Linked DNA regions of Homo sapiens. The protein of the gene in region 2 purifies or fractionates together with the protein of the main gene of each other region. This does not show direct contact. Each region holds a gene or a part of one and is shown on either strand. Other genes may lie near its edges.

What was found.
Region 1: the proteins of ABCA6 (region 2) and ANKLE2 purify together in Homo sapiens (affinity purification with mass spectrometry; one large-scale study listed by BioGRID and IntAct). This does not show direct contact.

What each region holds. Positions count from the first base shown.
Region 1 is NC_000012.12:132,744,534-132,748,354, reverse strand, and holds part of ANKLE2 (ankyrin repeat and LEM domain-containing protein 2), read left to right. Parts: intron 1-23; coding exon 24-217; intron 218-334; coding exon 335-523; intron 524-3,821. UniProt on the Homo sapiens protein: Involved in mitotic nuclear envelope reassembly by promoting dephosphorylation of BAF/BANF1 during mitotic exit.
Region 2 is NC_000017.11:69,110,896-69,114,716, forward strand, and holds part of ABCA6 (ATP-binding cassette sub-family A member 6), read right to left. Parts: intron 2,843-3,821; coding exon 2,723-2,842; intron 2,466-2,722; coding exon 2,327-2,465; intron 1,379-2,326; coding exon 1,288-1,378; intron 46-1,287; coding exon 1-45. UniProt on the Homo sapiens protein: Probable transporter which may play a role in macrophage lipid transport and homeostasis.

The DNA.
Region 1 (3,821 bases), on a different chromosome or scaffold from region 2:
TAAATTCTGTCTCTTACTGACAGATGGTTTGTGCTTGTCGGAATCAGAAACAGTCAACAAAGAGCGAGCGAACAGTTACAAAAATCCCCGCACGCAGGACCTCACCGCCAAGCTTCGGAAAGCTGTGGAGAAGGGAGAGGAGGACACCTTTTCTGACCTTATCTGGAGCAACCCCCGGTATCTGATAGGCTCAGGAGACAACCCCACTATCGTGCAGGTAGGTCTCGGCGGTTCCCTCGGGCAGGTGTGCGGTCCCGGCCGTTCCATCGCAGCACTCGCACAGGGCGTGTCCACACATCAGATAGGAAGCTCAGAGCATGCGGTTCTCTTTCAGGAAGGGTGCAGGTACAACGTGATGCATGTTGCTGCCAAAGAGAACCAGGCTTCCATCTGCCAGCTGACTCTGGACGTCCTGGAGAACCCTGACTTCATGAGGCTGATGTACCCTGATGACGACGAGGCCATGCTGCAGAAGCGTATCCGTTACGTGGTGGACCTGTACCTCAACACCCCCGACAAGATGGTGCGTGCACACCCTCCACTCACGCTTTCTTTATTTAATTGGTTAAAAGTCTTTCCCCAAAAGAATGCTTTATCGACAAGTTACTCATTAGTATAATAACTTTGGGGAAAAGATACATCAATTACACCCCTGCAACCTGCCTTCTTACCACATCCCACTGGACAAAGGGCACCGAGCGCTGGGGTTCCCTGGCCCCTGCATTGTCGTCGTGTGTGCGATGCTGTCCCCGAGGGTGTCTGAACTGTCTGGGGACACGGTTGTCAGAGGACATTTCCTCTGCCGAACAGGACACCTTGAGCTGAGCAGCACTTCCCCTCCCGGGAGTGGCAGAGCTGTGCACACCACAGGCAGGCCCTCAGTGTCCTACCAAGAGCCACTGAGGCACAGAGCTGCCCCTGCAAACCATGCTGCCTGACACGCAGGGCTGTGGAGAGAGAGAGAGGCTGCCTGACACGCAGGGCTGTGGAGAGAGAGAGAGGCTGCCTGACACGCAGGGCTGTGGAGAGAGAGAGAGGCTGCCTGACACGCAGGGCTGTGGAGAGAGAGAGATGCTGCCTGACACGCAGGGCTGTGGTGTGAGAGAGAGGCTGCCTGACACGCAGGGCTGTGGAGAGAGAGAGGCTGCTGGGGTGCGACTGCTTAGAAACAGGAACGATCTTGGTAGCTCCGGAGAAAAGGTGACAGCAATCCTGGCCGATGCCCATGCCCCACCCTCCACCTGACCTGTGGGGTCATTTCATCTGAAGTGCAGCCAGCAGGCGGGTTGGAGTCACTGATGAGTGCCCCCCGGGCCAGGCCCATGCAAGGCAGCACTGGGAAGCGGGCACAGCTCTTCTAAAGGGTGCTAAAGACAGGCTTTTCCTTCTCTTAGCCCCTCCCACCCCTGGGAGCCCAAAAGTCCTTCAGGGCAGAGTAGGGAGCCAGGGGAGCTGCCCTGCTTGAGAAGAGAAGCAAGTTTTATACACTGGGATGGAGCGTGTTAGTGAAACCAACACCCCAACTGGAACAGGCAGTCACACAGGCCAGGTGTAAAATCCCACACAGTACTCACAGCCATTGAGCAACCCTCATTTATATGTTTATGATAAATAAAGCATGAGGTAATGTGAGGCTTGAATTTCAGCTTGAGTCCAAAGAAATAATATTCTCTCACTAGGAGGCTAAAGCTGCTTTGCCTAATTTCGATTTTTGAAAAGTCCACTGCATTAAAAAAAAATAATGAATTTGCTTTTCATTAAAGCTAGATTAGTACAACAATTGGGCAGTTGTTGATATTCAGTTTACTTTCTGTGGGCAGGAAATGGACACTTCTTGTTTAGCATTTCAAGATAAAAACTCATGGAACAGGTAGGGCTTTCTGGGTGATTGCATTCCTTCTGTGAGTTAGGGAAGGAGGAGGTCAAAAATGCCACTTATGCGTAGGACTCTTCAATGCTTCAACATTCTGATGGGCTAACCTGATTCTTTTTTTTTTTTTTTTTTTGAGACAGAGTCTTGCTCTGTCTCCCAGGTGGGAGTGCAGTGGCACAATCTCGGCTCACTGCAAGCTCCTCCTCCTGGGTTCAACTGATTCTCCTGCCTCAGCCTCCCGAGTAGCTGGGACTACAGGCACCCGCCACCATGCCTGGCTAATTTTTTTGTATTTTTAGTAGAGATGGGGTTTCACCGTGTTAGCCAGGATGGTCTCCATCTCCTGACCTCGTGATCGGCCCGCCTTGGCCTCCCAGAGTGCTGGGATTACGGGCGTGAGCCACCGTGCCTGGCCACTAACGTGATTCTTAAAGGGAGCCTGGGCTTTGGCTCAGTATTTCAAATCCTCCGCCCTGTCCACTTCCTGTACCCCTAGGAAGGACAGCACAGTTATCTGTTTCACCTACAAACTTTAGTATATAACTATGTACACAACTGTTGAAATTCATGTGGATGCGGTAGCCACGTCTCCTTGTGGATGGGCAGGACTATTCTCAAAGCCGGCTCTGCGTGTGCGTCCTGGCTGGCCGCTTTGTTGCTCAGAGCTCCGGCTGTGATGCTGAGGGTGTGTGTGTGTGCTCTGCAGCTGAGCGTAAGCGACCACAGGCTTAGAGAGGTGCGGGATCCGACGGGCTCGTCGCCCCTCCCTGCTGAGGAAGGGAGATTGTCCTTGCTGTTCTCTGTCACCCACGACCTTAGACTTCATGGGCCCAACTTGGTCTTCAAACGACTTGAAAGTTGCAAATTTCCTTACGTCTCCGAGCTTCCTACTGATGGCAGAGCCCACCATGGACAGGGCCGCTGAGGTCTCTGTCTTGGTTGAGGTCTTCTGTCTTGCTGTGGGAGCATTTCCTGAGTCTTGCAGAGATCCGGGTGGGCCACTTTCTCATTCCACTTCCACATTTCTCAGAAGTCTTCACATAGGCGTTAGAGAGGGTTCCGTTTCAGCCTCCAAGGCAGAGAGGCCCAGCCTCCTCTCAAGCTCTCCACAGTCCCCCTCCTTGGCTGCCAGCACTGGTGTAGAGTGACAGTTTCCTCATCCGTCTTGGTAGCTGGGCCCTGAGCTCTTCCTCCTCAGCCTCTGTCAGACCCTCAACAGCAGTAGCCTGGGCAGCCCCACCTGTGTCAACAGGGACATTGGTCATGGAGTTGGACGGCAGGCCTTTGTGAGGAGAATTCGGGTTGACATCTTGGCTGGCGGCGTCTGTGTTCAGGCAGTCATGGGCCGCGGTGCGGGCGCTGTGGGAGCCGAGTGATGGGCTGTGGGAGCCGAGCAGGCAGCAGCAGGGTTGCTCACTGCACGCACGCTGCCCGGGAGCTGCCTCTGCTGGCTGTTTTAATAGGAATGGTAGCCAGTATTGTAGTTTAAGAAAGATTTGTGAGGCCGGGTGCAGTGGCTCACGCCTGTAAACCCAGCACTTTGGGAGGCCGAGGCAGGCGGATCACGAGGTCAGGAGATCGAGACCATCCTGGCTAACACGGTGAAACCCCGTCTCTACTAAAAATACAAAAAATTAGCTGGGCGTGGTGGCGGGCACCTGTAGTCCCAGCTGCTGGGGAGGCTGAGGCAGGAGAATGGCGTGAACCCGGGAGGCGGAGCTTGCAGTAAGCCCATATCACGCCACTGCACTCCAGCCTGGGCGACAGAGTGAGACTCTGTCTCAAAAAAAAAGTCTATAGTGCTTACTATCTGGTCCTTGTCCAAGAAAGCTTGCCAGCCCCTGGACAGAAGGATGGAGTACAGGTAGCGTGGTGGTATATGCAAACATCCAGACCTTTTTGGGGTCGTGTGAGAGAGTTGTAAGGGATACCTCTAGTGGGTGATGGC
Region 2 (3,821 bases):
AAGGATGTTATTTGTTCTGGGTTACATATTTCATTCCTATGTAAACTAATATTTAAAAGAAAAGATAAGTCATTTGCATTTTCTCCACCACTATCACAAAAGAAGAGCTTTAATTGAACACCTAGCTGTTGAGCACAACTTTACTTGGCTTTATGGAACAAAAAGATGAGTAAATACTAACATGATAGTAATCTATCAGTTTGAAAATTTTATAATCTATATATGGAAAATGTATAAGCTCAGAACAATTACAAAATATACAAACAAATATATAATGTAAATGGAACTATATAGAGTTTTATATGTATAGTTATAGATAAATGTAGGAAGCTGAGAATGTTAGGAAGAAGAGACTTCTTAGGGAAAATAATTATTATACCAGACCATATCATTAGCTAGTAGAGAAAATCTGGCCCACATGCATGCTTTGTTTGGCCATAGGGTTATTTTAAACAATTATTTTAGCCTGGATATACACCAATATGGTTTGGCTGTGTCCCCACCCAAATGTCATCTTGAATTGTAGTTCCCATAATTCCCACATGTCATAGGAGGGACCCAGTGGGAGGTAACTGAATCATAGGCAGTTACCCTCATGCTGTTCTCATGATAGTGAGTTCTCATGAGATATGATGGTTTTATAAGGGGCTTTTCCCTGCCTTCAGTCTGCATCTGTCCTTGCTGCCACCATGTGAAGAAGGGCGTGTTTGCTTTCCCTTCTGCCATGATTGTAAGTTTCCTGAGGCCTACTCAGCCACGCCGAACTGTGAGTCAATTAGATCTCTTTCCTTTATATATTACCCAGTCTCGGGTATGTCATTAGCAGCATGAGAACAGACTAATATATACACTTTTTTGTTAGCCACAGTTATCATTACTTTCTGCCCCTAGATTCTCTCCTTGTTGATACTGGCTTCTGAAATTATTTGCCTTTTTGCCCTATGAAAGAATGAAAACATATTTCAGAATTCTATGGATCAGCTGAGGAAAATGTGGGTAGGAAGCAGGTAGAGGTTTAGGCTGCACAGAACAGCTACCTAGAAAAGTGGCACATGAAGTAGTCTTGCTGTGAAAAGTCAGGCTTGGTTTATCATGTTGAAATGTTGCCAATGATTAACATTGTAAAGACACAGGAGGAAGGAAAGTAAAAAAAAGTATTCAGGAAACACTGATCAATCCAGTATGGTAGAGATGAAGCACGAGGCCAGTTCTGTTTCATAATTGTCCACCTTTTTCATATACCAGTATTGCAAACACATAAATCCAATCTATTCCCAAAGTCTTTACCTTAGGTGATATCCAAGACCCCACCTTCTTTTCAAAAACATAGAAGAACCTGCACACTTCAGTCTCCCATTGGACATGATCACTTTTCTATCTGAATGAAAGAAATCAAGGGAGAAAAGATATTGGGGGTCATTTCTTCTTTCTCTAGTAAAGAAAGACGAGGAGCCAAGGCTCAGAAGTGCAAAGGAGAAGTATTCAACAGGGTATAACTAGATCTAGTGTGCATTTTAACATTTGAAATACATATTAAAATTGATGCATTTAAAATGAACTCATGATATTATTCAGCCATAAAAGAGAATGAAACCATGTCTTTTGCAGCAACATGGATGGAACTGGAGTCTATTATCATAAGTGAAACAACACAGAAACAGAAAGTCAAATACTGCATGTTCTCATTTATCAGTGAGAGCTAAAAAATGGGTACACATGGACATACAGTGTGGAGTAATAGACACTGAAGACTCGGAAGGGTGAGAGAGTCAGAGGGGGATGGGGAATGAGAAATTATTTAATGGGTACAATGTATATTATTTGGTGATGAATACACCAGAAGCCTGGACTTCACCACTACATAATATATCCATGTAACAAAACGGTACTTGTACTCATTAAATTTATACAAATAAATTAAATTTAAAATAAAATAAGCTCATGAACACCAGTCTATCTGCACCTTCCAATACTTTCTGAAAAAAAAAACACATAAATTACATGGTATACTGTATACTCTGATGCTAAAGAATAAGTGTCTATTTTTCAATTAAATATATATAAAAAAAGATTTGAATGTTTAAATTAATTGACAGCTGATCTAAAAAAAAAAGGTAATCAGAATTTTTCATTAGTTGTCACTACCTAGCAAATGTACAACCAGAAAGGAATTCCACAGTGGAACTAGACTCCTGTCGTCCTCCTGACTGCTATAGAATGTAGGAACATCACCATAATGAGAGCAGGGCTCTTACCCTGGGAATAGACCTCGCTTCTAAATTCCCCAATTGCATCATGGTAACACTGAGATAAAACCAACAATTACCAGCCAGGATGTCAGCCTCATCCATGGACTGGGTACTGAAAAGGATCACATGATCTGCTCTACGCTCTCTCAGGAGGCTCCACACTTGATCTCTGGAAAAGGGATCCAATCCAGTAGTTGGTTCATCTAAAAGCAAAATCTACAGAGAATGAAGATATATAAAATATGTCTCTCTTTCACATTAACTGTATCCAGAAGATAGCATGAAAAACAATAAATACCATAAAATAATAACCATCCAGCCATTTTTCTCCAATATACTTCTATTTATAGTTAAACATAGCAGGTTCTCTCTTGATGCATTACAATGAAAGCTCTACCACTTTTAGTGGTAAAAGAACTTGACATTTTGCAGACATTCGACCTGCTTCCTTCCCCATGCATAATCTCACTTACTTGAGGATCTCCTAAAATGGTAATCCCAAAAGTCAGCTTTCTTTTCTGTCCTTCACTTAAATGTTTAGCAAGGTTATCTTGAATGTTTTGCATGTCCAATTCCAATAATATTCGTTGTACCTATATGAGAAAATACGCAACTTTTAAAATCCAAAATGAAGAAGACATTTATGCAGCCAAAAGACACATGAAAAAATGCTCATCATCACTGGCCATCAGAGAAATGCAAATCAAAACCACAATGAGATATCACCTCACACCAGTTAGTATGGCGATCATTAAAAAGTCAGGAAACAACAGGTGCTGGAGAGGATGTGGAGAAATAGGAACATTTTTACACTGTTGGTGGGACTGTAAACTAGTTCAACCATTGTGCAAGTCAGTGTGGCAACTCCTCAGGGATCTAGAACTAGAAATACCATTTGACCCAGCCATCCCATTACTGGGTATATACCCAAAGGATTATAAATCATGCTGCTATAAAGACACATGCACACGTATGTTTATTGTGGCACTATTCACAATAGCAACACTTGAAAACAACCCAAATGTCCAACAATGATAGACTGGATTAAGAAAATGTGGCACATATATACCATGGAATACTATGCAGCCCATAAAAAATGATGAGTTCATGTCCTTTGTAGGGACATGGATGAAGCTGGAAACCATCATTCTCAGCAAACTATCGCAAGGACAAAAAACCAAACACCGCATGTTCTCACTCATAGGTGGGAATTGAACAATGAGAACACATGGACACAGGAAGGGGAACATCACACATGGGGGCCTGTTGTGGGGTGGGGGGAGGGGAGAGGGATAGCATTAGGAGATATACCTAATGTTAAATGACGAGTTACTGGGTGCAGCACACCAACATGGCACATGTATACATATGTAACTAACCTGCACGTTGTGCACATGTACCCTAACTTAAAGTATAATAAAAAATAAAAATAAAATCCAAAATGATTCATATTATGCAATTTTAACCACTCATTAAAGCAGTCGATATTTGTTATGGGACCTCTTTGCCTAAATTTTATTCATAACAGGGCAAATAAATCATTGAAGAGAATTCTGTGGTCATGATTTAATT